4 linked regions of the Homo sapiens genome follow. The gene in region 4 interacts genetically with the main gene of each other region. Each region holds a gene or a part of one and is shown on either strand. Other genes may lie near its edges.

Region 1 (7,510 bases), on a different chromosome or scaffold from region 4:
GTGATGGGAGATGGACAGACTAATTTTTTTTATAACTTGTATGATTTTTTTAATATTTTTCGTTAAGAAATCATGTGTTAACTGTCAATCTTAATCTTTTGGTTTAGCCACATATAACTCACTAAACAAGCAAACCATATGAGTTGAGCAAAACCACATGAAGGGTTAGATGAAAGAAAACCTTTCAGTTGCTTATGCCCTACTGGCAGTGCTCAGATCTGGTCTGGCTGTGTATATGCTGATTTAGCTGTCCTGTGACCTTATATTTTAACTGGAGTACAGATTTATGTTCTGGCTAAGTTTTTGTACCTCACCCCTCATTAAACAGCTGCATTTTTTAAAACTGTAAGTGACCTGCAGGATAGTCTAGAAAAACAGCATGGTTTAGCAGAGGAACATTGAACTGGGGGGTCAACAGAGCTGGGTCCCAAGCCTGGCTCTGTGTGACCACTGACAAGACACATCACCTCTCAGGCTTGGTTTCTCTATCTGTAGCCTGTGACTAGTTCATCAGGAGGGTTTATCCTTTCTAGCTCTAACCTTTTAAAATATTATATCCCCAACATTGGAGTTGTTTCTGTCTCAGTTGGAGCTGATATTAGCACAGTGGCTTTTTAGTAGGTTAGGTTGTTGTCACACCTCAACCTATTCCTCCTCTTTTTCCAGTTCACCTTTTAACCAGCTCTTCTGATTTTTGCCCTAAGGTTATGACTGCCCAGCCACTGAAGGGATATTTGACTATGCAGCAGCTATAGGAGGGGCTACGATCACAGCTGCCCAATGCCTGATTGACGGAATGTGCAAAGTAGCAATTAACTGGTCTGGAGGGTGGCATCATGCAAAGAAGTAAGAAAATGACCTTTCTGTTTTCTGACTCTTTCCTTGAGTCAGTTTCTCAGTTATGTAAACTCTTATGCTTATTGTATTGACATTTACAGAGAGACGTGTGTGTATGTGGCACTTTACAAGGCATTCTGAAGAAATCCAAGTGAAATAGAAAAAAGATTACCTAATATAGTGGAAAGCACACTGCTCAAAGTCAGGACACCTGGGCTCTACACCTAGTTTTTCTAACTTGGCTAACTGACTTGGACTGATTACCCTCCCTAGGCCTCAGTTTCTTCATCAATAAAATGAACAAAGGATACAACTAGACAGTCTCTAAATTCCTTTTCGGCTTTCTAGAAATTCCCCTGTCTTCGAGGGACTTACAGTCTAGAAACATTAACAAAATTAGAATAGAGAACAACATTAGTTATGGTACCAATGGAATATATGTATGAGCTGAAGAGACTTATCAGTAGAAAGAAATTAATCATGGAAGTCTTGGCAGAAGTGAATTTTAGAGCTAGTTCTTAAAAGAAGTGGCAAACAGATTTTTAAAAAGGTGGAAAATTGACGCTAATAGGTTTAAAACAAAAGGCTGAAGAATCAAGAAGAGGGCTCATGCTCCTCTAATGAAAGTAGCAACCCAGAGGTAGATGTCTCTCAAAGACAAAGGGCTTGTGAAAAGGCTCTTCCTAGGTGCTTCTTGGAGTTAGAGGAGAAGTCCTTTGGAGTGTTTGTTTGTTTATTTGTTTGTTTGTTTTTGAGACAGAGTCTCGCCCTGTCGTTCAGGCTAGAGTGCAGTTGCGCGATCTCAGCTTACTGCAACCTCCTCCTTCCCAGTTCAAGTGATTCTCCTGCCTCAGCCTCCTGAGTAGCTGGAATTACAGGCACCCGCCATCATGCCCAGCTAATTTTTGTATTTTTGTAGAGACAGGGTTTCACCACGTTGGCCAGGCTGGTCTTAAACTCCTGACCTCAGGTGATCTGCCTGCCTTGGCCTCCCAAAGTGCTGGGATTACAGGGGTGAGCCACCGCGCCTGGCCACCTTCTAGAGTTTTATGTTAACATGTCAAACTGCAGTAGTCTGTCTGAGAAGGATTGCTGGGCCCTCCTTCAGCATTTGGGACTTTGTTTGATATTTCTGTAGTACTTAATCCACATTGAAGAAGAAGGATTTTTTAAACTCTGAATTTATCGATCCTCTGTCTGAGAGAAATGAAGCCACTGTGGTAGTAACTGCCAATGCCTCACTCAGGAATCAATTGTTCATGCAATCAACCGTGACCTTAGGTGCTCTTAGGTCAAGAGAAAACAACACTTTGTTTTTCAGAATAAAACACAGCACAACTTCAGCATATGCAGGTTAAGATAATAACAGAATTTTTTCCATCAAATTGACAGATTTTGTGGCCAAGGAAGTCCTTGAAAAAGTTTACTGCTAGAATTTACTAGTTGGGCAACACAGCAAAGGAAACCAATGTTTTAGTAATGAGTCTTACATGGTTTTAAAAACAGAGACAAGCTGCCTTTTGTTAGCTTTTGCTTGCTTGCCTGCTTGCTTTTTTCTTGCTTTGTTTGTTTGTTTGTTTGTTTTTTGTTTTTTGTTTTTTAATAAAGACAATGTCTCCCTATGTTGCCCAGGCTGATCTTGAACTCCTGGGCTCAAGGGATCCTCCATCCTCAGCCTCCCAAGGTGCTGGCATTACAGGTATGTGCCACCACACCTGGCCTCTTTCTTTCTTTCTTGTTTTGTTTTTTTCGAGACAGAGTCTCTCTCTGTCACCAAGGCTGGAGTGCAGTGGTGCAATCATAGCTCACTGCAGTCTCGAACTCCTGGGTTCAAGGGATCTGCCCACCTCAGCCTTCTAGGTAGCTAGGACTACAGGCACGTGCCACCATGCTTGGATAATTTTTGTATTTTTTGTAGAGATGAGGTCTTGCTATGTTGCCCAGGCTGGTCTCAAATTCCTGGCCTCAAGTGATCCTCCCACCTTGGCCTCCCAAAGTGCTGGCATTACACATGACAGCCACTGCACACCGCCTGCCTTTTTTTTAAATTCAAAATAAAGACAATGACTGCTAGGAGAAAAAAAATGACCCTCTCCCCTCCCAGGTGCAGAGTGAAAGGAGAAAGCTAAGCTTCTCTGAACGAAAGACTTCTAGGTCCTCTTGGGCTTGGCAAGTTGAGAAGAAAAGTAGTGTGGCTTCATAGAAAAGGCTTGCTTCTATGAATGACATCCAGTTTATTATGCAATTAAATTAACTGCAGAAGGCCTACTAGGGCCTGGGTCATTTTCCAGTGGAGTACTCTGCTTCTTATTACTGTTTTGCTGCCAAAGGAAGTACACTCTGTCTTGACCCAATCACGACTGCTTCTGGGCTGCACACAGACATGGGGATACCCACATATATCGCCTTAACTGTTGTAGACATCTTTCAGCTGATCCTGCATGGAAACGGACATGCCTGTGATAAATATAAATTACAGAGTCTCTAGAGATTGCCCCAGTTTAGGTCTGAATTCCAAGGTGTTCTTGGCATAACTAGAACCTCTCTGTAGATGGACTACAGGCATTTAGGCCACAAACTTACATCTAGCCAACATTTACCTATTATAATCACAATATTTGCTTAAACTTCCCATCTGCAAATATATGTACAGATTCATACATGCCATTTATTCATTGAACAAGCATTGATTAGGCACCTACTACATGTCAAATGTATGTTTATCATCACCAGTAAGCAGAGATATAGAAATTGAAGCAAGATATATTGTTTCCCCTACCAAGTTTGAAAAAGATTCTTTATTTCAAAATATCCAGGTGGTAGAAGGATTACAGTGAAATTAATACAACCCCTTTTGAAAACCTTGGAAGTGTTAAGAATGGGAAAAAATGTTCATACCAGTTGGGCCAGTAACAATATTCTTGGCAATCTATTCTAAGGAAATAAACCAATTCTACCTGCAAGAAATTTATATCTTAGGAGTAAGACAGCAAATAATTGCATTTGAAAGCTAAAAAAGGATGATTTTCAAAGAATATTCTACAAAAGAAGAGTAACGAAGGACTAATACTATTAGATATTAAGCATCCAAAACTACAGTAATGAAAACACTGGTACAAAAATTAGACAGATAGGTTATAGTACACCCCCCACCCCAACAAAGAGACCAATTATATAGAATTTAATCTATTACAAAGGATGCATTGCAAGTGAATGGGAGTTGAAAGGTCTGTTGAGTAAATGAATGGTATTGTGACAGCTTGTACCATTATACCCTCATCTACTGTAATAAACTAAAATGAGTGACAGCTAGATTGAAAAGTTAAATATTTAAAAAAGCAAATTTTAAACACTAGAGTGAATGGATATTTATCAAGCTTCTAAAGGGGAAGAATTTTCTAAGCTTAGAAAGTAATTTTTTAAAATCACAAAGGAAAAGATCAAACCCGACTGTACAAAATTTTAAAACCAAAATAACTTTTAAAAGGTTTTTTGGCTATTTTCAAAATCTAAACACAGACTGAAAAAGCCTATGTATCATAAATATGACAAAGTGTAATAGGCTTGTATTATCTAACCCACTCCTACAATATAATGTATAAGAAGAAATCTGCACAAAGAACACGAATAGACAATTTACAAAGGAGTTTAAGGACAACTGGAAAACATTGGAAAATGTTCATCACTACTAATCAAAGAAATGTAAATTAAAACCATTAGGTAAGCCTCTTTTTTTTGAGACAGAATCTCGGCTCTGTCATCCAGGCTGGAGTGCAATGGTGTGATCTCGGCTCACTGCATCCTCTGCCTCCCGGGTTCAAGCGATTCTCCTGCCTCAGCCTCTTGAGTAGCTGGGATTACAGGCGCGTGCCACCATGCCCGGCTAATTTTTTTATTTTTAGTAGAGACGGGGTTTCACCGTGTTGGTCAGGCTGGTCTCGAACTCCTGACCTCATGATCTGCCTGCCTCGGCCTCCCAAGGTGCTGGGATTACAGGCATGAGCCACCACTTTTTAAGCCTAAATTTAACAGAATTGAAAAAGATGGTACTCAGTTTCCTAGTGAGTGTGGTTTGGAAGAAAGCATTTTGGTAGCCAATGTGTATTAATGCCCTTTGATCAGGTAATCTTACTTCTGGGAATGTGGCCTAATTTTTTTTTTAAATATGGGAAACAAACTATTTTCATGAAGGTATTTATCAGTGTTATTTATAAAATTTTAAAAACTAAAATAACATGAATGCCTAGCAATAAAGGAATGGTGAATCTACTCCTTAGAATATTATCCTATTGTTTTACTGTTTTTCTTCTGTGCAAAAGCTTTTTGTTTTTATTTATTTATTTATTATTTACTTATGAGACAGGGTCTTGCTCTGTCGCCCAGGCTGGAGTGCAGTTGCACGGTCTTGGCTCACTGCAACCTCTGCTCCCCAAAGGTCAAGCAATCCTCCCACATCAGCCTCCTGAGTAGCTGGGACTACAGGCACATACCACCACACCTGGCTTTTTTTGTAGAGATGGGGTCTTGCCATGTTGTCCAGGCTGGTCTCTAACTCCTGGGCTCAAGCAATCAGCCCACTTTGCCCTCCCAAAGTGCTGGGATTACAGTTGTGTGCCACCATGCCCAGCCTTATGCTATTATTTTAAATAATGATTATAAGGATTATAGGGAACTTCAGATAAATACTTTATGTGTGTCAATAAAAAAGCAGGTCTTGGCTGGGTGCAGTGGCTCATGCCTGTAATCCAAGCACTTTAGGAGGCCGAGGCAGGTGGATCACCTGAGGTCAGGAGTTCAAGACCAGCCTGGCCAACATGGTGAAACCTTGCCTCTACTAAAAATACAAAAATTAGCCGGGTATGGTGGCGGGCACCTGTAATCCCAGCTACTCGGGAGGCTGAGGCAGGAGAATCGCTTGAACCCAGGAGGCAGAGGTTGCGGAGAGCCGAGATCGTGCCACTGCACACCAGCCTGGGTGACAGAGTGAGACTGTGTCTCAGAAAAAAAAAAAAAAAGAAAAAAAATAGGTCTTAAAAATGTATGCACATTGTAATCACAGCTTTGTAAAACATATGAAGAAAAAAAGACTGGTGGGAATGATAACAGTGGTTATCTTAGAATAACAATAATATAGTGGCAGAATTATTTTTTCTCCCAAATATTATTTTTTATTTTTTAATTTAATTTTCTTTTTACAACTTTATATATATATTTTTTTATTTCAATAGGCTTTTGGAGAACAGGTGGCGTTTGGTTACATGAGTAAGTTATTTAGTAGTGATTTCTGAGCTTTTGGTGCACCCATCACCCAAGCAGTGTACACTGTACCCATTGTGTAGTCTTTTATCCCTTATCACCCCTCATCCTTTCCCCCGAGTCCCCAAAGTCTAATGTGTTGTTCTTATGCCTTTGTGTCCTTATAGCTCATCTTCCACATGAATGAGAACATACGACGTTTGGTTTTCCATTCCTGAGTTACTTCACTTAGAATAATAGTCTCCAATTCCATCCATGTTGCTATGAATGCCATTATCTCATTCCTTTTTATGGCTGAGTAGTATTCCATGGTGTATATATAAAACATTTTCTTTATCCACTTGTTGATTGATGGGCATTTGGGCTGGTTCCATATTTTTGCATTTGCAAATTGTGCTGCTATAAACATGCGTGTGCAAGTATCTTTTTCGTATAATGACTTCTTTTTTTCTGGGTGGATACCTAGTAGTGGGATTGCTAAATCAAATGGTAGATCTACTTTTAGTTCTTTAAGGAGTCTCCACACTGTTTTCCATAGTGATTGTACTAGTTTACATTCCCACCAGCAGTGTAAAAGTGTTCCCTTTTCACCACATCCATAACAACATCTATTATTTTTTGATTTTTTTATTATGGCCATTCTTGCAGGAGTGAGATAGTATCACATTGTGGTTTTGATTTGCATTTTCCTGATCGCTAGTGATGTTGAGCATTTTTTCATATGTTTGTTGGCCATTTGTATATCTTCTTTTGAGAATTGTCTATTCATGTCCTTAGCTCACTTTTTAGTGGGATTATTTGCTTTTTTCTTGCTGATTTGTTTGAGTTCTTTGTAATTCTGGATATTGGTCCTCTGTCAGATGTATAGATTGTGAAGATTTTCTCCCACTCTGTGGGTTGTTAACTCTGCTGATTATTTCTTTTGCTGTGCAGAAGCATTTTAGCTTAATTATGTTTCATCTATTTATCTTTATTTTTGTTGTATTTGTTTTTGGGTCTTTGGTCATGAATTCTTTGCCTAAGCCAATGTCTAGAAGGGTTTTTCCAATGTTATCTTCTAGAATTTTTATAGTTTCAGGTCTTAGATTTAAGTCTTTGATCCATCTCGAGTTGATTTTTTGATAAGGTGAGAGATGGGGATCCAGTTACATTCTTCTACATGTGGCTTGCCAATTATCCCAGCACCATTTGTTGAATAGGGTGTCCTTTCCCCACTTTATGTTTTTGTTTGCTTTGTCAAAGATGAGTTGGCTATAAGCATTTGGCTTTATTTCCAGCTTCTCTATTCTGTTCCATTGGTCTATGTGCTATTTTTATACCAGTATCGTGCTGTTTTGGTGACTATGGCCTTATAGTTTGTAGTTGGGTAATGTGATGCCTCCAGATTTGTTCTTTTTGCTTAGTCTTAGTTTTGGCT
Region 2 (7,944 bases), on a different chromosome or scaffold from region 4:
CACACAGTGGGGATGGGTGCACTGGCTCACGCCTGTAATCCCAGCACTTTGCAAGGCTGAGGTGGGCGGATCACCTGAGGTCAGGAGTTCGAGACCAGCCTGGCCAACATGGCAAAACCCCATCTCTACTAAAAATACAAAAATTAGCTGGGCTCGGTGGTGCGCACCTGTAATCCTAGCCACTCGGGAGGCTGAGCTCGAGGTGTACTGCTTGAACCCGGGAGGCGGAGGTTGCACTGAGCCAAGATCAAGCCACTGCACTCCAGCCTGGGCGACAGAGTGAGGGTCCATCTAAACACACACACACACACACACACACACACACACACACACACACAGTTCACTGGGGGTGGGGCAAGAGGCACCACGTGCCAAAGGGTAAAATGTCAGCCAATGGTGAGTCTGGCAGGGCCAAGAGGATATGGGAATTTTTGTAATTTTCCTGTAAGTCAGAAGTTATATATACAATTATGGTATAAAAGACTTTCATTACTGAGAACAAGACAGAATTTCAGTTTCTTTTGAAACAAGTCTCAGTCCTTATGGAATCTGAGACAGCAACAGATAGCTTTCGTTTCACATAGCTGTGTCTGGAGCTCCCCACCGCAGGTGACCCGCCCGCCTCGGCCTCCCAAAGTGCTAGGATGACAGGCGTGAGGCACCGCGCGCGGCCACACTGTGTGTTTCTGTTGAGATATTTGAGAGCAGCTTCTAACGCTAAAGCTTCCTGTGTCCATGTGTCTTTTACTACCACTCAGGAGCCACCGGCGAACACCTTCTCCCTGGTCTACAGACAGAAGCCTCCGGGAAGTCCCGGAAAGCAGGGTCATCTCTTCAGTGGCAGGGACTGCCTCCAGGGCCCTGGCACAAAGTCCCTACTTCTGAATCTCAGGATGTTTTAATCAATAAAATAAGAAAGCTCCTGGCTGCCAACCTCACCAGGTCGTGAGTGAGAAGCCGGCACATCAGAAACATGCGGAGCCCTGGGCAGGCACCTCCCAGACACTGTCCATCAACTGCCCAGGCAGCAGAACCAACTCTCACACAAGTAAACGTCGGAGTCCAGGAAGCCGGGCGCGGGCAGAGGCCAAAAGGAGGAGCTGCTGGCTCTCGTGGGCTTGCTACGGGGCTGGCGGTCCGCTTGTCCTCAGCTCCAGGCTTGCTCAGCCTGCACCTTGGCTGGCGGCGTGTGGACTGAGGACGTTAACGGGGCAAGGCAACACTGGCCTACGCAGATGAAGGGGTCGGTGAGCAATGTGGCTCCTGCACCCTGCCTCTGAGGGGCCCGCTGGGTGGGAGAGTCATCACCCAGCTGACGGCATCTCCGACACTGGAAGTCGTGGCTCCTACAGACCTCACACCCCACAAACCCAAAAGGGGTGTTCTCATTAGTGGGGGAGGCGTGGGACGAGCTCCACTTCTTCCCTTGCAACCTGGAGTCCAGCGTGCAGTCTGCCCATCAAAGGTCATGATGAACATCTCCCAGGATCTGCAAGCCTGGCACCCAGGGCCTGCAGCTCGACACCTGGCAGGTGCTCAATCCACGGTGGCCGGCGCAGCCACCCTCTTCTGCCTGTTAAAGCAAAAGCCGTTTTGGATGGCAACCTCGCTTGCTGCGTGCCATTCGGGTGCCTGTGCGGTATTTATGCGTAAAGTCCATCTGCAGAGGCTTCCTCTGGCCTAGGCTGACCACAAAGAGCCCTGACCTCCTGGCAGCACCAGAGTGGGCTTCAAAAACCGGCGGCCAGCCCGGCCATTCGGGGCCAGCAGCCTCAATGGGGGCAGTTGGCAGGCGACCTTTCCCTTCCTGCTGGGCCGGGGGACCAAGCCAGGAGGAGCCTGCCTCCCCACAGACCCCACCTGGCTCTGGGCTCCGCCAGTCACACTCAGCTCCGTGCACAATCTCAAGAGGCAGAAGTCCAGGCCCAGTGGCGGCTGATGTGTGGGGAACCCTTCTCTTCTTCCAGAGCATCAGGAAGAGCCTCTAGGGACTTTCCTGCCCCTAAGACCAGGTGGGAAACCAGGACCACTTCACCCACTGCCTCAGGCCAGTGAGCCCAGCCCGCCCCTCCATAGCCTGGACTCCCTCTCCCCAGCAGGGTCAGATGCCCCCCCTCCAGCCCACGCCTGCAGGGTGTGGGGTCCACAGAACACAGGAGCGGTCCGTGAACTGGAACGCGCTGCTGTGTGCTGAAGGAGCCCCTGAATGCCCACATCCTGGGTGCTAACTGTGGTCACCCTCATCCTCTCCCTGCCAGCCCCGCCCTCCCAGGCGGACCAGTGTTCTCCTTGGCAACGCCTGGAGCCAAGCTGGAAGCTCAGCCTATAAGCATCTGTCGAATGACTGGCCTCTGCCAAAAGCCCTGTCACAGCTCTCAGGGATTCTGACATCATGACATGGTGTCACGGGGACCAGGCCTGGATGGGAAAAGGCCTCAGTTCACAGAAGACAGCACAACCTCAGATTGACGGGTCGCACCATGAACATAGCCGCCTGACCAGGAGCGCCCTCTGTGCGGGGCGGGCAGTGGAGGAGTGTGGACTCCCAGCTCCGGATCTTCCACCCCCTGGGGTGACCCCGGGCCCATCCCTCAACTCCTCTGTGCCTCAGTCTCTCTGGCAAAGCCAAGGGTTAGAGCCAAGGCTACAAGCACAGCTGGGCACGCTGCGCGCTGCTGCTAGCTCTGGGCCACTGGGGAGCTGCTGTGTGAAGGGCAAGCGCCAGGGTCCATGCTGCTGCCTTTCTAGACACCGGCCTGCTCCAGACCATTGGAGCCAAGGCGAGCCAGTCAGGAGCACATCCACCCTCAAGGCCCATTCACAGGAATCAAAGGAGCCGACACAGGACAAGCCATAAACCACAAGGAGCAGCGGCCCCCAGCGCAGGGGCAACCAGGCCAAAAGCACAGATGCTCCCAGACAGTGGCTCTCCCCCCAGCAGGACACTGGGTGATGTCTGGGAACATTTGTGGTTGTCACGACTGGGGGTACTCCTGACCCGGAGTGAATGGAGGCCAAAGGTGCTGCCCAGCACCCTGCAGTGCCCACGGTGCCCCAGAGTGATCCAGGCCAGAGTGCTGACAGAGCCCAGGAGACCTGCCTCGGAATAACTCCAAATGCACCAAGAGAGCCCCAGAAAGGCCGGCACGGCCCCATGAGGTTCCCTATCACTCCCCGCACTGCAACAGCCTCCCCCAGATCACGGCCCTCTCTGGCCTGACCAACAATCTTGCCAGGTGCCTTGTGCTCACTCTGCACAGGTACAAGTAGTCACGGCCTCTAGGGGCCCAGCCAGGAGCCCCACTCAGGATGTCTCCTTCCACAGCCACCCAATAAACCCAGAGACCTGCCATGGGCCTGGCTCTGAGCTGCATGGCCCCCGGCCACAGTCCTGGGTATCCTCGAAGCTGCCCAGAGGCGGCTTTCTCCTCTCTCCGCTGAGTCCTTCCTCCCTCTGTGACTTTCCTACAATATTTCCAGGTGTCCCTGTCTTACCATTCCCCAGTGTACCAGATAAAATCTTCCATAAACCTCTCTCTCCAGTTCCATGACCGTGTGCTGCCTTGGAAGCCAGCAGAACACAATGGCCTGGGCGCTCGAGGTGACCCCTCTGAGCCTCTGTCCTCTCCCCAGTAGGCCAGGCATGGGCCCTATCCCTGACACCTGGTCTACCACCCAGGCGCCTAGCACCCAGCGGCTACTCAACAGGATGTGGCGACCCCGGCCGCGCTGTGTCAGCTTCCCAGAATCCAAGTCAGAGGCGCTCAAGCCAGACTTTAAGATGACTTCACAAGGCCAGGGAGGGCACACTGGAGACTCGGGCCTTCCTGATCGCGCGTGCTCTGAGCGCTCCAGGCCACCTGCTGGTGCCAACCCTCTAACCCTCCTGACAGGTCAGTGCCTGTCCCCCACCCTTCACAAGAGGACCAGGACAGGCCCCGCTCCCAAAGGAGGACACTGTCCATCACATCCACCATGTAGGGTCCGCGTGCCAAACCCACCAGGATCCAGAGAGGGACTCCCCACACCCCACCACACGTATGCGCTTCCTCCTGCATGAAGCCCCCCTCAAGCTGACTGGAAGTCGGTGTGTGTAAGGCATCCGTTATCACCGGCAGGCCTCAGCTGACTTTCATCCCCCATCAAGCTTTACATGGACTTCTAAGCCAGCACAGGGACCCTCAAAACTTGGGACGACTTCTCAGACTCAAAAGCAGAGCTTCCCCCAAGGATGGCTCCCTAACCCACCTTCCAGGTGTGGATTCCCAGGGCAGCAGCTGGACGGCCACAAGTGTCCCAGAACAGGGGGCTCCCAAGCTCCAAGTCTCCTGAGGCGTTGACCCCGCACCCATGCATGCTCCAGGCCCAGCCCTCCAAGCGGGGTCCGGCGGGATCTCCTGCCTCCTCCATGGCAGTGAGCAGTGAGGGCTCTGCATCAGGAAGAGGGAGCTCCTCAGGCTGCCGAGCCCCCCCAGTGGGTAAGGGACACCGCAGACCCATGGCGTCCTGAGAGCCGCCATCTGCCGCAGAGAGGGCCTGCTTCCATCCAAGCTCAGCACCCTCCTGCATGGCACCCACCGCACCTGCAGGGGACTTGCCAGGAGGGCGCTTCGCAGGGTCACAAGCATTTCACGCACACAACAACTCCACACAGCAAGATCAGAGCAGACCGTGGACTCCGCATAGAATGGAAGCCGGTCTCCCATGCGACGGGCGGCTGTGGCAACACTTCTTGCCCAAGGAGTCTGACTTAGAAAGCAGTGGACACTCCTGGCAGCCGGGGAGGAGAGCAGGGTCCATGCACTCCAGTTCTCCTCCACGCAGCCCGTGGCGTCCGGGTGGCCTGCGAGCCTATTTGTGCTGTGGGTGGGACCCCTCCAGACCCAGGCTGGGACCCCAGCTGCCCCACTTCCCAAGGGTGTCCATGCAGGGAGGGGACAGGAGCCCTCACCTCTCTCCAGCCTCCTCACAGCCACGGCTTGGGTGGAGCGGGCCCACGTTCACCCGCGGCTTGAATGGACCTAATCCAGGTACCCCATCTGGGAGCCCTTTCCCTGCCTCACCCCAAAGTCGATGGCTCCATCCCCCATGGCCGGTGGACTCCCTGCTCAGGCCCATCCCTGCAATGTCCCTCACACAGGCACACGGACCCTGCCAAGTCAAAGTGCCTGGAGAGGACTCACAGCACGGGCTAGGCAGGGGCTAAGTGCTTTCATCCTGGTTCTCCAACGGAAGGTGCTCTTTTGTTTTGTCTGGGGAGGGGGAGAGCCCACAAAAGGCATTTCCCATCCACAAGTGTGACCTGTAGCTGGTGCGAGAGGCGCCTGCCAAGGCAACCCTCTAGCAGCAACCGCTCCCGCACTAGCCAAGCCCAGCGCTGAGAACACAGGGCGCTGCTCAAAGCTAAGGGCACCGAGAAATTTACACCAGACCACTAGGAAACCCAACCCAGACTGTTTTGCCGGAAGAATGCAACTCTAAAACGACGTCGCTGCGGCAGGAGCCGCTCCTACCAAAGAATGGCGCCGAGCCCTGGGGCACAGCGAAATGAGGTTTCCCGGCCCCGCGGGGTCCGGAGCAGGTCAGGCTCCTATAGGAGGGGACGCCTCGGCGCAGCAAAGATCCGCGGGCCCGTCGCCGCCTCGGAAGCGCTGACTCTCCCTTCCGCAGCTCAAGCCCACCCCCGGCGGGGAGGCGCCGAGGCAACGTAAACACAGCAGGCCCCGGCTGACCCGAGCCCCCTGGGCCCTGGGTTTGCGAACCCCTCCCGACCTTACCACTTTGGGGGGGTGGGATGGGAGCGGGGAGCCCGGAGCCCCGAGTGGGATAGGTTGGGCGGTGGCAGAACCGGAACCCTCGCCTCGGCTCGCCACGTGCGCCGCCCGCCAAGTTTGGGCGCGCGCTGGGGGCGCCCCGGACCACCCCCCACGCCACAGTTTGGGGTCCCCCTGGCCAGGAAGCCGGGAGGCGGCGGCGACGGCGCCCTGGACTCCCCGCAGACTCCCTCAGGTTCTCATTCGGGGTCCCCCAGGCCAGGAAGCCCTACAGGCGGCAACGGGGACGCTCCAGACCCCCCCAAGTTCCCGTTCGGGGCCGCCACAACCAGGAAGCGGCGGCGGGGGCCCCTGAACCCCTCTGGCTCCCATTCGGGGTCCCTCAGGACGCGCAGTCGGGAAGCGGCGGCACGGGCGCCCCAGGACACCCCCCCAGGTTGCCGTTCGGGGTTCCCCCGACCAGGAAGTCTGGAGGCGGCGGCGGGGCCCCCCGGACCCCTCAGGCTCTCCTTCAGGATCCCCCAGGACGGGAAGCCGGGAAGCGGCGGCGGGGGCGCCAGGACCCCCCCAGACCCCGGGCACCCGTCCAGGGCCCCCGGCGCGAAGCCGCGGCGAGTCCGGGTCCCGAGTCCGCCCCCGGCCGGCGTGACCTTGACGGGGCGGCCCCGGGGGGCGGCGTCTGAGGCCGGGCGGCGGGGAGCGGCGGGCCGGGCTCGGGGCGGAGACGCAGGCCCGCGCCGCTCGTCCTCACCCGATCTCGTCGGCGCCCGAGTTGTTCATGGCGGCGGCGGCGGCGACGCTCGGCGCTCCCGGGCCTCCTCGCTCGCTCCCGCCTCCGGAAGGTCACCCGCTCCGTCGCCCTCCCCACAGCCGCGGCCCGGATCTGCGCAACGGCGGCGGCGGCGGCGGCGGCGGCGGCGGCGGCGGCGGCGGCTGCCTCCTCCCCTCGGCGCCAACGGTCACCGCGCGTCCCCGCGCCGCCGCGCCGCCGCCCCTGCGCACGCCCGGGCGCGCTCCCGCACGGGGTCTCCGGGGGCGGGTCCAGGGGTACTCCGTCTGTGCGTGCGTCCCTGAGGCGGATTTCGCGCCGCCGCAGTCGGGGCCGTCGCGCGTTTTCCTTTCTCCTCGGAGGCTCCTGGCGTTGCCGCGGGGCACGCTGGGAAATGGAGTCCCTGCGCTGGCCCCGCCCCTGCAAGGGGAGGATGCGCGCGGGCCGAGCCACGTGCGTGCGTGCGCGCGCGTGCGGGCTTGCGTGCGCGTGCGCGCTTGCGAGACCGGCGCTCCGGGCTAGGCACTGTGGGCGCAGGCGCGGCTGCCGCTTCCTCTTTAACTCTTCACTCGGAAGCGGTGGAGCCGCGTGGGGCGCTGCGGGGAGTGGGAGTGTACCCGCCCGCACCCCAGGCGGGCGGACGGAGCGGGAACGGCACGTGAGCGTCCCGCGCGAGGCTCCTTCCCCTGTCCGCATTTCACAGAAGAGGATCCCGAGGGTCCGAGAGGCTGAGTCACTTGGCCAAGGTCACCCAGTTCGGGGCTGAACTGGAATCAAATCAAAACAATTAACTAAATTCAATGACTATGAAAAGATATTATTGACCCCCCCCCCAAGTGCTATTACTATTAATAGCCAAATACTGTTTTAGTTGCATCTGTTAATTGCATACATCAGTGGTTCTTCTTCTGGGTGACTTTGCCCCCTAGGGGATAACTTGGCAATGTCTGAAAACACGGTTTTGGTTGTCACAACTTGAGTGCGGGGTGCTGCTGGCATCGAGTGGGTCCAGACCAGACATGCCGCTCAGCACCCTGCAGTGCACACGACGACCCCCCAAAAAGAATGATACCCGTCCTCCAATGTCAGCAGAAGGAGGTGGAAAAACCGGTCTAGGCTGACGGTAGTAAACAGGTGACCCGCAGGGTTTTGTAAAACCGGGTACGTGCTGCCTACTGCTTTTCTCCTTAATCTCACAGCACATTGACAGCCTGATCGTTTGGTTTATTCATCATCACAGAATTAAATAAATACAAGGAACAAGGCCGGGTGAGGTGGCGCACGCCTATAATCCCAACACTTTGGGAGGCCGAGGATCAATTTAGGTCAGGAGATCGAGACCAGCCTAGCCAACATATATAGTGAAACCCCGTCTCTACTAAAAATACAAAAGAAAATTAG
Region 3 (7,510 bases), on a different chromosome or scaffold from region 4:
TTCTCAATTTTCCTTATACAACCAAATATATACAATGGTGATTTGAGGTCTAAAATCCATAACAAATGATCAAACAAAATTACAGTCTCTCCACTCAATTTTGTTTACTCTTTAGCTGCTTGTACAACTACTCAACTCTGTAGTTGCAGTACCAAAATAACTGCAGAAAATATACAAATGAATGGGCATGGTTGTGTTCAAAACAAAACTTTACAAAAACAGGTGACCAACCTGCACGCTGTAGTTTAACCTCTGCTCTATCCCCATACCTCTATAAATATCTAAAAAAGAACAATTCAGTTTTCCACTTTTTTCTTTGTGAGACAGTCTCAATACAACAACAGGTCACATTTCAATATCTTTTAGAGAAGACTGAATGTCCTTGCCTTGTCTTGTTTGCTAGGTTTTTCAAATGGATCTGGAAGAAATATCTTATTACTTAGCTTTTACCGCTCTAACTCGGGCTTTTCAAATTTTTCTGTTTCTTTATGAACCTGTTTTGCAATTTTTATTTCCTATTTTATTTTATTTTTATATATTTTATTTTTCCTAAACTTTTTTTTTCTTCCTAGGCTTCGTTGATCAAATACTTAGAATGACTACCAGTCACAAGCCAAGTTCATCATTATAACTACAATGAAATGATATATTCTAGGCAAGGTCAAAGAAAAAGGAGGTTTTAATCAGTCTTTGCTAATATTTTCTATTACTAGATTTCTAATGCTCCTATCTCTATAGACATCTGCACCCAACCAGCACATCCATCCCACAATGGATTCTTTTCTTTTTCTTTTTGCCTAGCTGAGTTGACACATACCACAATGGATTTCTAAGGGTCAGGAAAACTAGATACAGGATTCTCTTGGGTGATAGTGAAGAAATCGGTTAAGAAAGAACAATAACTTTAGGGAAATGATTAATTTATAAAAGTTTTGGTGCACTTATTGAAAATAAATTCCTTTGACTAAAGATATTAAAAACCCAGGAAAGGATACATCAGCATCCACGTAAGATTGCAACAACCGGATTTCTCCTTGTGAATGACATTCATACAAGGTAACCTAATGAAAATAAAAATACAGTAAATTTCATCTCAAGTATAGAAAACATACTCTCTCCAACTTTTAAACATATTTTAATCGCAATCCTATCTTAAATATACTACAGAAACTACTGCCTTAAAATACCTCCTGTGAGCTTAAAGAAGCCATTATAAAGCTGAATGTTTTACATAATACACAGAGCATATTAAATATTGCAGTAATAGTCGTTTCGATTTCCAATCTTTTAAACTTATATTTCATCCATTCAATTGCCTAGGCAACATAGCAAAACCCCATCTCTATTAAAAAATAAATATTAGGCCGGGCACGGTGGCTCACGCCTGTAATCCCAGCATTTTGGGAGGCCAAGGCATGCGGATCATGAGGTCAAGAGATCAAGACCATCCTGGCCAATATGGTGAAACCCTGTCTCTACCAAAAATACAAAAATTAGCTGAGCGTGGTGGCACATGCCCGTAATCCCAGCTACTCAGGAGGCTGAGGCTGGTGAATCACTTGAACCCGGGAGGCGGAGGTTGCAGTGAGCCGAGATTGCACCATTGCACTCCAGCCTGGCAACAAAAGCGAAACTCTGTCTCAAAAAAAAATAAAATAAAATAAGTCCGGACACAGTGGCTCATGTCTTTAATCCCAGCACTTTGGGAGGCCGAGGCGGGTGGATCACGAGGTCAGGAGATCAAGACCATCCTGGCTAACACGGTGGAACCCCGTCTCTACTAAAAATACAAAAATTAGGTGGGTGTGGTGGCATGTGCCTGTAGTCCCAGCTACTCAGGAGGCTGAGACAGGAGAATCGCTAGAACCCAGGAGGCAGAAGTTGCAGTGAGCCAAGATTGCACCACTGCACTCCAGCCTGGGCAACAGAGAGAGACTCAGTCTCAAAAAAAAAAAAAAACCATAAAAAATAAAAATTCAAATAAAAATAAGTCTTTGGATAGTTTTGGAGTATTTACATATTAGTTACATATTTAAAAGTCTACAATTTGCTTAATGAATTATTTTCTCATGGGTACAGATAATCAAACATTAACTTTCACATGTATGATAGCCTTTTTCATTTGTTGCATACTCTAAAATTAAAACTATACATACACCATACACAATTTTGTAATACTAAACTTTTATAAATTTCTTTCCATTTTCTTTTTTTTTTTTTTTTTTTTTTTTTTTGAGACAGAGTTTCACTCTTGTCGTCCAGACTGGAGTGCAATGGCATGATCTTGGCTCACTGCAACCTCTGCCTCCCGGATTCCAGTGATCCTCCTGCCTCAGCCTCCCGTGTAGCTGAGATTACAGGCACTCGCTATCATGCCCAGCTAATTTTTGTGTTTTTAGTAGAGACAGGGTTTCACCACGTTGGTCAGGCTGGTCTCGAACTCCTGAGTTCAGGTGATCCACCTGCCTCAGCCTCCCAAAATGCTGGGATTACAGGCGTGAGCCACTGTGCCCGGCCCCATTTTTCTTATAGCTTATAGTCAGTCACATTAGCAAAAACCTATTATTATTTTATAATAGTACTGAAGACCTCTGAAGATCCTGTGTATCATCACAACCTATTAATTCATTATCTCCTCTATGTTAATGTTCAAAAAAAATTCTTTATATGGCTGCTAACTAGGTTATGTCTTATGTGGTAATTGTTTTTGTTTTCTTTCTTCCTTTTAAAGAAATTCTAACAGCAGAACTTTTTATAATTCAATAAACTATATGACACCCCTTTATGTCACTTTAAATAAAAATAGGGATTCTTTTTGTTAGAAAACCTAAAACACTGCAATCAGCACACTGGAGCACAAACTATACCAATTATAATACTATCAAAGCTAAATATTAACTTAGGTTTACAGTGGTGTCTTAAAAGTGGACTCAAATTTAATTAATGCACTACATTCCCAACTAGGAAAAAAATAACCTCAACCTTTTCTTAAAACCGCAAAATTTTTCCTCTGAATTGTTGTTTTCAAAGAATCTAGGAACTAAACAACTATAAGCAGACTACATTATCTTAAAACCTACATTTGACTAAACACCAAAAACAGAAGAAAAAAAGCTATTATTTCATGTTATCAACTTCAGTGGTAACTTAAAAATATTTAGAGTTTCAATGAATTGACCTTGTCAAATAGTAAAAGGCCTAGAGCCTTACATGTCATTATAAAATTTCCTTAAAAGGCTGGACATGGTGGCTCATGACTGCAACCCCAGCTCTTTGGGAGGCCAAGGCAGGTAGATTGCTTGAGCCCAAGAGTTCAAGACCAGCATGGGCAACACGGTGAAAACCTATCCCTACAAAAAAAATTAGCCAGGGATGGTAGTGCATGCCTGTAGCTACTCAGAAGGCTGACATGGGAGGATCACCTGAGCCCCAGAAGTTGAGGCTGCAGTAAGCCTTGATTAACCACTGCACTCCATCCTGGAGGAAGGAGTAAGACTCTCTCTCTCTCAAAAACAAACAACAACAACAACAACAACAATCACCACCAAACACTACCTGTCTCAAAACAAAAAAACCCAGCAAACTCAAATGTTTACTGCAAGTAATTAAAACATCTCAATAACTTATTTAAATCCACTGGATTTATGCTTCATTTATAGAGCCATTCATTACCTTAATTTTAAAAAAATCACAGCCAGTTCTTACGCTATTTGAATGATAAATACCAAAATCACTTTAAAAAGAACGCCAATTAAAAAAAAAAAAAAAGGACGCCAATTCTTTCAACCAAGTATTTATGAAGACAAATACAAGTATAAAACCTGTTTCATAAATAATTAGGGGTAATATATTAAATATAGATGTATTTTCAGCCATGCATACTAGTTTTAATTAATTTCTAGAAACCTTCACTCTTACATGAAAGAATCATATTGCTAAACCAGCTTCACAAAATGCACTTTGAAATTATTCTATTTCAATATTACATTAACACCAGATCTGGAAATCAAGCCAAATACTAAATAGACCCCTTAACACTCACTCTGTTGCTTCCTACAGTTGCAAACACTAATGGATCTCCTTCTTTACTGTGCCAGTTAAACTGAACTCCAAACAATGGTTGGTTATGATCTTCCTATAAAATAATCATGAAATAAGAAAAGATTAATGTATCTTACAAACCAGAAAATGACAGTAAACTAACCTATCCCCTTCTTTTTTCCAAAATGCAATACATTATTTTGTGTATCATACATAAGCTAACTTTTGACACTAAAATTAAAAGATGTCTACTAGTCTAGTTTTCACATTTTAAAATATTGTGTATGATAAAGTTTTATCACAACCAAAGGCTGAAATCACAAGTTAGGTAATAACCGCTTACCTACGAAAACACTTATAATATTTGCCTTTTTCTTAATAAGCCAATCATATTCTGAATCACAATAAACTGGATAATTTTGGTGGATACAAAAGGACACAATTTATTTTTCTGAAACAGGAAATTAACAGATGGCCTTAATAGCTTCTCTGGCATTCACTAAATTTTATAAGGCTAAATTTTTCCCTTGTAAAGTGAAGCATAGCAGACTCCATTCAAATCACTGTTTTCTGTTAGTCAGAATGAGAATATCTGAACACTGGGGACTAGGGGAAGAAATAAACTGTAACTGCACAGTTACCAGGAGGCTATAGGAGATGTACAAAGAACAATTATGCACTTTTGTTCACAAAGTTATTTTTCAGCTTTAGGATTTTACTGGCCAACTTCTGGCATTTAACACTGACTTTCAGATGCAGTTTAAGGCACTGTTTTCACTTTTAAAGTACGTCTTTCGTTTTCTCATCATTTGAAAAGCCACAGCTTTAGGATTTTGAAATACTGCCTTAAGTATAAAAGGCAGCTAAAAACATCTTCCAGGTACAGTACCTAAAAGTAGTACGTTAATGTAAATAAATATGCACATGAAACTATAATTGACTTTTAAAAAATATGCTGAGATTAATTTCTCTCCTTTTACAGGAGCAAAATCTGACACACTGAGCATCGAATTTTTGCTACACAGACAGAAAAATGTCATAGTCATAGCTTCTTATGCTTTCCCAAAACTTTACTTATAAAAAATATATTTGGATATTTAGAAAAGGTTTTAACTTACATATGTATGAGATAATACACATTTTTCCTCAGTATAGAAAAAAATAGCCTCACATTTAAAAAACAAACTGGACATATATAAAAGAAAATATCTTAAACACCAGTAACCCCTTTTATAAAGTAAATAAAAATACTATTGGGGACAGATTAATTTAAATAACCAAAACCCCCTTTTCCCTAAATATTTAATATTAAAAAGTTTAAAAATTTTTTACACCTTTTTCTTTGAAAACAGTTATAAATAAAACAAAGGACAGAAACTGTACAAAGTAAAACATCTGTTTCAATTTATACTTAGTCAAAGTTAATGGGTTACATTCAGTTCTTTTTAAAAACTGATGCCAGAAGTGGCTTATGTTTTTTAAGTTTTACTAAAATATAAAGAGTAATAGTTACCCAAATCTTATAATTTGAATGCAAACAATAAAGCAAAAACATCCTGCAACACTGTCACATATTTAAATTAAAACAACAAAAAACAAAACCAAAAAACTAAACATGGGATGGACTAAAATAGATACGCAGTCTGAACTACAAAAAAAAAAACCCTTCAGAAAACATTGTAACTTTAAAATATTTACAACTTGACAGAGTATCCTGAGTACGAAATGCGTGCCACAGAGAAATAATTTCTGAAGCCTAGCATTCAGCCCAAAGGATCTTTTTTTGCACATACCTTGAGACTATTTACACATTTGAAAGAATATTTGCATTTCTTTGACTTCCATTTTCCCTTTCCCCAACTTTTCCTTCCAGGTGCATTTGGCGTGTTTGTAGGTGTATCAGGGCGTTCAGTGTTTGTACCACTTTCTATACTGACAGCGTCATCCTGTAAGCAGTAAATGAGGAAAAATTACATGAAACAGCAATACTGTTTTTAGCAGTAAATAACTCTACTGGGAAGATGCTGACTGACCTAAGAGAAATAATTTCTACAAGAAGAAAAAAATGTATTCTTGCCTCCACATAAGGATAAACATAATCCAGCTACAGGTTAGAAGGTTTGTAGATATTTTATATTTCAACAAAAATGAAAATGAAATAAATACTAATGAGAATAATGGAAGAGTAATACTGTCTTTAATAAGGCACTGGTCTGTTCCAGTCACTTTAATACACTGTATCAGTGAATCTTTACAGCTCTTTACAAAAGGTACTGGAAGTGCTGAAAAAGCCTAACTGGTCTCTTGGCTGGTAATTCCATCCCAAAGCTGTGACTCTTAAATCTGACTGATGTATATGTCTTCATAATGTATTTGACTGCTGCTCAGTCTGGAGCATGGAGCTGGGGAGCCGTTTGAAGCAGGAGTGTTAATGGCTTCTACATTAGATGTCACTTTTTAAAATCCTGTTATTCAAATTCTGCTTATAACGCAAAACATTTAGAATTTTTTTAAAGTGCTACATATATTCTATGCTATTTACAAGTTAAAACTGTCTCATTGTTCTAAAGTAATAATACTCATAAATCAGAACTCCAGAGACTCTCAATCACAATTAAAGTAAATCCTTCCAAAAAAAAGAAATGACTGCAGGAAACCTTGAAAATTCTCCTAATTCATACCTTATCTCACACACGAGTGGCCCTCTAATCTCAGCTCTCTAATCTCAGAAGAGGATTCCACTACCTCCTGATTACAGATTCCAATGTCTCCTTTGGAAAGAAAAGATTTATTTAATCTAGGATCTTAGGGCAGCAGTTCTAAAATACATTCCAGAGGAAGCCTTTTTTTTTTTTTTTTTCCATGAAATGCCTATTAAACAGCCTAGGAAACACTGCTTTAGGGGCTATTTTTAAATTATTGCTTCCTAAAGTTGGTTTTATATAGAAGGTTAAAAAATATCATAAATGAAATAATAGGCGGGTAGCAAGCAGTACGTACTCAACAAATATTTGAATTGTAATTTAATGTGAATATCATTAGTCTTTACAGAAATAGAAAATGTGGTATTTTAATCTCTTTTTCTCTCCACCTTTTCAGTTGTATTCACATAATTAACATCAAACGTAGAAAACAATTCTGTATCTCAGTGGAAAACTATGCATTATCTATATAGCACATCCTTCCAAGTTACCAGACTATAGCCCTCCACTATGTCTTTGAGCTATCTTACAACTCTTTTTTGAGACAGGCTCTCCCTCTGTCACCCACTCTGTCCTTGGTTCAACGCAACCTCCACCTCCCAGACTCAAGTGATCTTCCCCCCACCTTAGCCTCCTGAGTAGCTGGGACAACAGGAGCTGGCCACCACACCCAGCTAATTTTTGGTAGAGACAGAGTTTCACGATGTCGCCCAGGCTGGTCTCAAACTCCTGGACTCAAAGGATCCTCCCACCTCAGCCACCTAAAG
Region 4 (7,510 bases):
TCAGTTATTTACCTCTTCAGATACCTTCCCCGATACTTTGGTAAAAGCTATGGACCCATCTCCCTAGAAAAACGGCATATTCCCTCATGCGCATAACTTCAGATGATTAGTGGACCTTCTATAGTCCCCTTGGATTATGTGTCCACTGCTAAGAATCCAGACCCTAGAAGGGTGAGGGAAACAGGCAGTAGGAAAAGGAGGGAGCAGGTCTTAGGCTGTACATGCTTGGAAACCATTAGATGGAGGCAGTAGCTTCTTTTTTTTTTTTTTTTTTTTTGAGATGGAGTCTCGCTCTGTCGCCCAGGCTGGAGTGCAGTGGCGTGATCTCGGCTCACTGCAACCAATGCCTCCCAAGGTCAAGCAGTCCTCCCTGCCGCAGCCTCCCGAGTAGCTGGGATTACAGGCACCTGCCACCACGCCCAGCTAATTTTTGTATTTTTAGTAGAGACGGGGTTTTGCCATGTTGGCCAGGCTGGTCTTGAATTCCTGACCTCAGGTCATCCACCGGCCTCGGTCGCCCAAAGTGCTGGGATTACAGGCGTGAGCCACCGCGCCCGGCCGCCAGTGCCTTTTAATAAAGAACGTTTTGAGAGAGAGACGGTTATTTAATGAAATCTGCTGACATACTTGCTGAGAGTTGTGATAGAACTTGCTTTCATTCCGACTTTAGTTATCCCTTTGCTTCCCATGAAGCTCCAGAGTGCTTCCTGTGCACACAGTGCTTCAGGTTCTTGCCGTTGCCAGAAATAAACAGATTTCTTAGAGTTTCAGTTGGAGCAAACATTGGAATTCTTGTGTTCTGGGCTTTATGTAGTAGAGTAATTCATTTGCTTTTCTAGCCATGCAATATTATTGCCTTAATCAAAATTATTTACAGTATGGTACTTCCCAAAATAACAGACAGTTGTTATCCATATTCAGGAAGTGGGCGCGAGAGGCCACTTTAATTTGATAGACTCTTTAATTTGCCTTTTTACTACTTTTCTTGAGGGGCTTGTTCCCTTGAACCCCAATAGCTGAGTTGTGTGTTACCCTAGATTTTAGGATATGAACAGGATGTATAAATACTCAATGAAGTTGGGATCATCTGGGTTTGAGAGTTTAGCCTGTAGGACAGTTTTACTGACCACAGTCTTCATTTTTTTTTTGAAACAGAGTCTGGCTCTGTCGCCCAGGCTGTGCAATGGCATTGTCTCGCCTCACTGCAATCTCTGCCTCCCGAGTTCAGACGATTCTCCTGCCTCAACCTCCTGAGTAGCTGGGACTATGGGCACGTGCCACCACACCTGGCTAATTTTTGTATTTTTAGTAGAGACGGAGTTTCACTGTGTTGGCCAGGCTGGTCTTGAACTCCTGACCTCGTGATCCGCCCATCTCAGCCTCCCAAAGTGCTGCGAGTATAGGTGTGAGCCACCACACCTGGCCTTGACCACAGCCTGTCAAGGCATGAACATAAGCAACCGTGGTGAGGAAAGAGGTTCTGGTGAGACTCAGCATAATAGTAATTTTGGTAATACCAAGTAGAAATAATTTAGCTCAAAACTGGTTCCCATTATGAACCAAACTTGAAGATCAGTATCCAGCTCTTTTCTCCAAAGTTAACAAAGTGCGGAAGGGAATGAGCACCCCCCCGCTACTGAAAAAAAAATCACTTGGAATGTAAAATTTAATAGAGGAAGAAAGGAAGGAGATTAGAGAGGAAGATAGTTGGATGCCGAAACAGGGTTCAAGACTTACCCTTGAGCAAGGGGCTGAAATTGGCTTGACTGATAGGACGTGTGATCTGTGAGGAGGTTTGAAGTAGTAGTGTTTAACTACATGTAGTTTGGAGATGATCAGGTGATTGTAAACCTCCCACTCCTTTGATTTATTTTTAAGTGCTTGAAAGGAGAGGTGAGAAAGGAGCAGTGATCAATGATAACTGTGCGGTTAACTGACTTTTGGGTATCAGATGGAAAAGAAATACTGTCATTCTACAGCAACAGGTTCTTCCCAAGTATTTAAGAAACACTGTGTTAGTTGGGCCGGGTACAGTGGGTCACGCCTGTAATCCCAGCACTTTGGAAGGCCAAGGCGGGTGGATCACCTGAGGTCAGGAGTTTGAGACCAGCCTGGCCAACATGGTGAAACCCTGCCTCTACTAAAAATACAAAAAATTAGCCGGGCTTGGTGGCACAGGCTTGTAATCCCAGCTACTTGGGAGGCTGTGGCAGGAGAATCGCTTGAACCCGGGAGGTGGAGGCTGCAGTGAGCTGAGATGGGAAAAAAAGAGAAACACTGTGTTACATGACCCATCTTCTTTTTTTGACATTTAGTTCAGAATTTCACATACCATTAAGGTAATTAAAGTTTTATCTTCAGTTCCCTTTTAGACTATGGCGACATACCTGGAGTTCATCCAGCAGAATGAAGAACGGGATGGTGTGCGTTTTAGTTGGAACGTGTGGCCTTCCAGCCGGCTGGAGGCTACAAGAATGGTTGTACCCCTGGCTTGTCTCCTTACTCCTTTGAAAGAACGTCCAGACCTACCTCCTGTACAATATGAACCTGTGCTTTGCAGCAGGCCAACTTGTAAAGCTGTTCTCAACCCACTTTGGTATGGATTCTTTTGAAACTGGTAAAAATGATAAATACAATATATTATGAATTTTATGTGATGCTCATAAAAGTCATTAAATTTGGGCAGGTCATCAAATTTGTGATAAGTAGTAGATGATGAGACTCCTAAACGATTCTTGTGGTGAGTAGTAAGTGGTGAATATTTGTAGAAATCTCCCTGGCCTGATAATTCCAGATAAAATTGGAATCTTACAGGAATGAGGTAGAGGTAGAGGGAGAGGATTTGTAATTCACTTTTTTTTTGGCTGATAATCAGTTTGCTTTTGGCTTAACTGTAGACTTTATTGATTCCTCTTAAAGTAATTTCCCAGAAGAATTCGAAAGCTTAGACCGTCTTCTCATGCTTCCCGGGTACAGTGATGCTATATGGCAAGGAGAAGTAGCAGGCAGAAGAAATTTTAACTGTTAACAATTTGTTAAGTGTAATTTTTTTTTTTTTTGTGCCTGAGATAGTGACCTATTTCTTTTAAATGTGGGCATTATTTGAAATGATTTTTAAACAGGTAGAGAGTGTCATAAAATTTTTATATGAGGGAACATTTTTTACTTCATTCTCATTGCTTTTATTTAATGTGCCCATATGTGAATGCATAGCCACTGGTTATTAATTTTCTAAATGTAGAAAATAAGGGAAAAGTAACTGAAGCATTATCTTGAACCAATTTGAGGAAGTGAAATGTGCTTGCCCAACTTTTCTTAAAATGGGCTAAGTCAGGTTAAAAATCTAGAAGCATTTTCCTGTGTGTGAAATATGCTTTTAATGTTGGAATTTAGTAGTTTCACATAGCCGGACAATAAAGATGTTAGAAAAAAATCATGAAGAGTATGTTAAGATAAAAGGCAAGAGAGAAATAATGTATAATTTATATAAATCATGACATTTAAAAAATTAGGAAATTGGAAAAGAGAAAAAGATTTAGTATTTCTTCACTGTGGCTGTTTGATGGAAATTGTGGTGTACTTAGCCAGAATTCTAACTGCGGTGAACGTTTTGCATACTCATACTTATGCATACACATAGAAACACTTACTTGTGTGATTTACTGAACTTGAAATTTACAAATGAACGCTTTCTACCTTAAAAATAAAAATTTTATTTTAAAAATAAAAGTGGTACCTACTTATAATATTTATCTTTCTCACAGTCAGGTTGATTATCGAGCAAAACTTTGGGCCTGTAATTTCTGTTTTCAAAGAAATCAGGTATGTGAATTATTTTTAAAAAATGTTATATGTTTTATTTTAGTTGTATTATGAAAAAAATTAAGTTAGGTTGAATTTGTGTTTACACTGGCAGTGAGCAGTTTCTGCTGAACTCAGGGTGATAACTTTTGTTAAGCACAATATTGAATTTGAACATTTGTGGTTTATTCTGTTGAGTGGTTTTCTTGAGTCCTTGTCATTTGCTTGGGGCTGGGGAGGGGGTGTTCATTGAATTCCCTTTTCTTACACATTTTCTGTAGGCAGTGAATCTGTGACCCAAAGAAAGCACCTGTTTTTCATATTTCTCTTGACTTCAGTATATTCTGATTGGATAGTGTATATTACTGAATTTTCATTTTCTGATCTTTCTAACTTTTAGAGTCCAGGTATCAGTGTTGAGCTTCTTTTGATTTAAAAATTTTAAAAGTACCAAACTAGAAGGAGCTCACAAATCACAAGAGAGACTTCTCTATAAAAGTAACTGTGCGGCCAGGCCTAGTGGCTCATGCCTGTAATCCCAGCATTTTGGGAGGCCGAGGTGGGTGGATCATGAGGTCAAGAAATCGAGACCATTCTGGCCAACATGGTGAAACCCCATCTCTACTAAAAATACAAAAATTAGGCCGGGCGCGGTGACTTACGCCTATAATCTCAGCACTTTGGGAGGCTGAGGCGGGCAGATCATGAGGTCAAGAGATCAAGACCATCCTGGCCAACATGGTGAAATCCCCTCTCTACTAAAAATACAAAAATTAGCCAGGAGTGGTGGCAGCCACCTGTAGTCTTAGCTACTCAGGAGGCTGAGGCAGGTGAATCGCTTGAACCCGGGAGGCGGAGGTTGCAGTGAGCCGAGATTGAGCCATTGCACTCCAGCCTGGCAACAGAGCAAGACTCCGTCTCAAAATAAAATAAAAAATTAGCTGGACATGGTGGTGCGCACTTGTAGTCCCAGCTACTCAGGAGGCTGAAGCAGGAGAATCGCTTGAACCCGGGAGGTGGAGGTTGCAGTGAGCTGAGATTGCGCCACTGCACTTCAGCCTGGCAACACAGCAAGAGTGTCAAAAAAAAAAAAAAAGTAACTGTGCCTGTAGTGGAAATGTTCTAAAAGTGGATTGTGGTAATTATTGCACAACTGTACGTTTTCTAAAAATCATTGACTTGTATAATTAAAATGAGTGAATTTTATGTTGCGTAAACTATACCTCAATAAAGTTGTTAGAAAAAATTTGTGTCCAGCATAGTGTACACTGTTCTAACAGATCTTAAGCTCTTCACATGCATTCGTTCATATATTTGATCATAATTACAATTACTCATTCTCAGATACAGCATATAAGTCTAGTGATGAAGAGGACAGTGTACAATTGATGACTGACCATAGGTTCGGAAACTATAAGCAGATGTCATTTAAAATATATCTTCATGAGAGATTCAGAAGTATATAGAAATCTTAAAAGCATTTCTGCTCCCTATTACATTTAGGATTAATGTCTTTGTTTAATATAATTTATTATAGTAATTCTAAGGCAGGGTAGCATAGTGGCTAAAGAGCCAGAGATCTGTAGCCAGACTGCCTGGGTTTGGCTCTCAGATCTACCACTTATTTCCTGTGTAACTTTGGGTAGGTCACTTAACTGCCTGTGCCTCAACTTCCTTGTCTTTAAAATTAGGATGATAGTATAGTATACCTATAGTCACTTCATGAGATTATTGTGAGAATTAAACTGAGTTAATGAGTATAAAGGACTTAGAACAGTGCTTGACACATGGTAAGTGCCATATAAGTATTTGGTATTATTATGCTTACCTAAGATTGTCACCTGCCAATTTATAAGTATGATCTGCAAGTCTATGTGTCCTAAGTGGAAATAATCTTTTGTAACCTTCCTAGCTGGACAGTGTGGGGGTTTTCTAGCTCTAAATGAATGTAGAGCTGGAAGACGGAGGGATCAGGGTGATCTCCGTCTCCTTTGCTCCCTTCTGTGCAGCTGGCTGACTGCGTGGGTGAACAGGGCCTCTCCAGGTTGCTGGGAGGTGGCTGGTGTGTCTGTAGTCATAGATCGAGCTTATCCCTGCTGGGAGCTGCAGTCAGTGGGCAGTCATGGCCAGGATGGGGCTAGAGTCTTCTGCTGGCTCTGACTGAGATTCTTGCTGGGGCTCGCAAGCTCAGTTGTACCCTTCTCTCCCAACCAGAGGCCCCTAAAGCTGCCTGTCAGCTCCTCAGCAGCACTTGCATTTGGTCACTCTGAGGTCACTGGCCTGGAGTGATCATCTGCTCACTTTGGGGAGATGCACCTCAACTTGTATTTTTAATGTAAAGCTAAAGACTATTTGGATTATAAGCCAACCCACAAGCTGTGAATTTAAAACATTTGCAGAGAGTTTTAAAAACAAAAGAAAATGCCTGTGGCATTATGTTGACTGGAAAAAACAAGTTCCACATTGTATATATGGGATGTTCTCAACTGTGCTTAAGTCTGGAAGGAAATCTGCCAGGAGGTTGACAGTAGCTGCTTCTAGGTGATAGGATTTTGGGGGGCTTTTCCTCCTTTGTTTGCTTCTATTTTCCTGGACTTGCCAATTTTTCTACATTCCGTATGTATTACTTTATTGATAATAGCCAAAATAATAAACCTAAATAAAGTCTTTGGCTTTATTTAGACTATTAACTATTGATGAGATAGGTGAAATCTCAGCCTTTAATTTGCAGGGCAAAACTTAAGAAATGGTTTTCATTTGTGTGTTTTTGGCTAGGCATGGTGGCTTATGCCTGTAATCCCAGCACTTTGGGAGACTGAGGGGAGAAAATCACTTGAAACCAGGAGTTCAAGACCAGCCTGGGCAACATAAAGTGTGCTTTTAAACATTTAGAAGTTACAATAGCTTAAAACTGCTCTAAAAAATATTTTTTAAGAGGACAGAAATGATATAAATATAAGGCAGGGTTAGAAGTTTTAAATGCTGATTTTTATGTTTTTTAACGTGTCCTGTATTTTGTGCTTTCAGAATAAATACATGGTCATTACCATTTTTTTTCTTCTTTTTTGAGACAGAGTCTTGCTCTGTTTCCCAGGCTGGAGTGCAGTGGCGCAATCATGGCTCACTGCAGCCTTAACCTCCTGGGTTCAAGTGATCCTCCCACCTCAGCCTTCTGAGTAGCTGGGACTACAGGTGTGAGCCACCACGCCCAACTAATGTTTTTACTTCTTGTATACAGACAGGGTCTCACAGTGTTGCCCAAGCTAGTCTGGAGCTCCTGAGCTCAAGTGTTCCTCTCGTCTTGGCATCATTATCATTTTTACACATGGAAAATAAAAAGTGTAATATAGTTATGCCAACCCTAATAAAACTGTTTCCTTCTTTTCAGTTTCCTCCAGCTTATGGAGGCATATCTGAGGTGAATCAACCTGCCGAATTGATGCCCCAGTTTTCTACAATTGAGTACGTGATACAGGTAATTTCTTTGTTGTGCATTTAATGAGCAATGTTAAATACTGAATTTCTCTTGAAATCCTTTGTCTTCCATGTCTCTTACCTGGGCAGGGGACTTAAAGCTGTGAGGGCAGCAGGATCCTAACCTTTAGGTTTGATGTGTGTGCATCTACTGGCATTGTTTTCAAGTCCTGACATTATAGAAGGCTACTAAAAAGGTAGAACTGATTAAATTCCAAACCTGTTCTCTGTAGCC

The links.
Region 1: changes in SEC23B (region 4) and HDAC8 together harm fitness less than expected from each alone (positive genetic interaction), as found in Homo sapiens cells (one large-scale study listed by BioGRID).
Region 2: changes in SEC23B (region 4) and DAZAP1 together harm fitness more than expected from each alone (negative genetic interaction), as found in Homo sapiens cells (one large-scale study listed by BioGRID).
Region 3: changes in SEC23B (region 4) and EED together harm fitness less than expected from each alone (positive genetic interaction), as found in Homo sapiens cells (one large-scale study listed by BioGRID).

Annotation. Positions count from the first base shown.
Region 1 is NC_000023.11:72,561,225-72,568,734, reverse strand, and holds part of HDAC8 (histone deacetylase 8), read left to right. Parts: intron 1-704; coding exon 705-846; coding exon of another isoform or gene 847-850; exon of another isoform or gene 851-938; coding exon of another isoform or gene 939-978; exon of another isoform or gene 979-1,153; intron 1,154-7,510. UniProt on the Homo sapiens protein: Histone deacetylase that catalyzes the deacetylation of lysine residues on the N-terminal part of the core histones (H2A, H2B, H3 and H4).
Region 2 is NC_000019.10:1,406,384-1,414,327, reverse strand, and holds the start of DAZAP1 (DAZ-associated protein 1), read right to left. Parts: upstream 6,743-7,944; 5' UTR 6,555-6,742; coding exon 6,526-6,554; intron 6,444-6,525; exon of another isoform or gene 4,707-6,443; coding exon of another isoform or gene 4,249-4,706; intron 1-4,248. UniProt on the Homo sapiens protein: RNA-binding protein, which may be required during spermatogenesis.
Region 3 is NC_000011.10:86,248,773-86,256,282, reverse strand, and holds part of EED (polycomb protein EED), read right to left. Parts: intron 6,835-7,510; exon of another isoform or gene 6,723-6,834; intron 5,988-6,722; coding exon 5,835-5,987; intron 4,136-5,834; coding exon 4,043-4,135; intron 1,062-4,042; coding exon 996-1,061; intron 1-995. UniProt on the Homo sapiens protein: Polycomb group (PcG) protein. Component of the PRC2/EED-EZH2 complex, which methylates 'Lys-9' and 'Lys-27' of histone H3, leading to transcriptional repression of the affected target gene.
Region 4 is NC_000020.11:18,508,461-18,515,970, forward strand, and holds part of SEC23B (protein transport protein Sec23B), read left to right. Parts: intron 1-2,361; 5' UTR 2,362-2,375; coding exon 2,376-2,596; intron 2,597-3,764; coding exon 3,765-3,822; intron 3,823-7,189; coding exon 7,190-7,276; intron 7,277-7,510. UniProt on the Homo sapiens protein: Component of the coat protein complex II (COPII) which promotes the formation of transport vesicles from the endoplasmic reticulum (ER).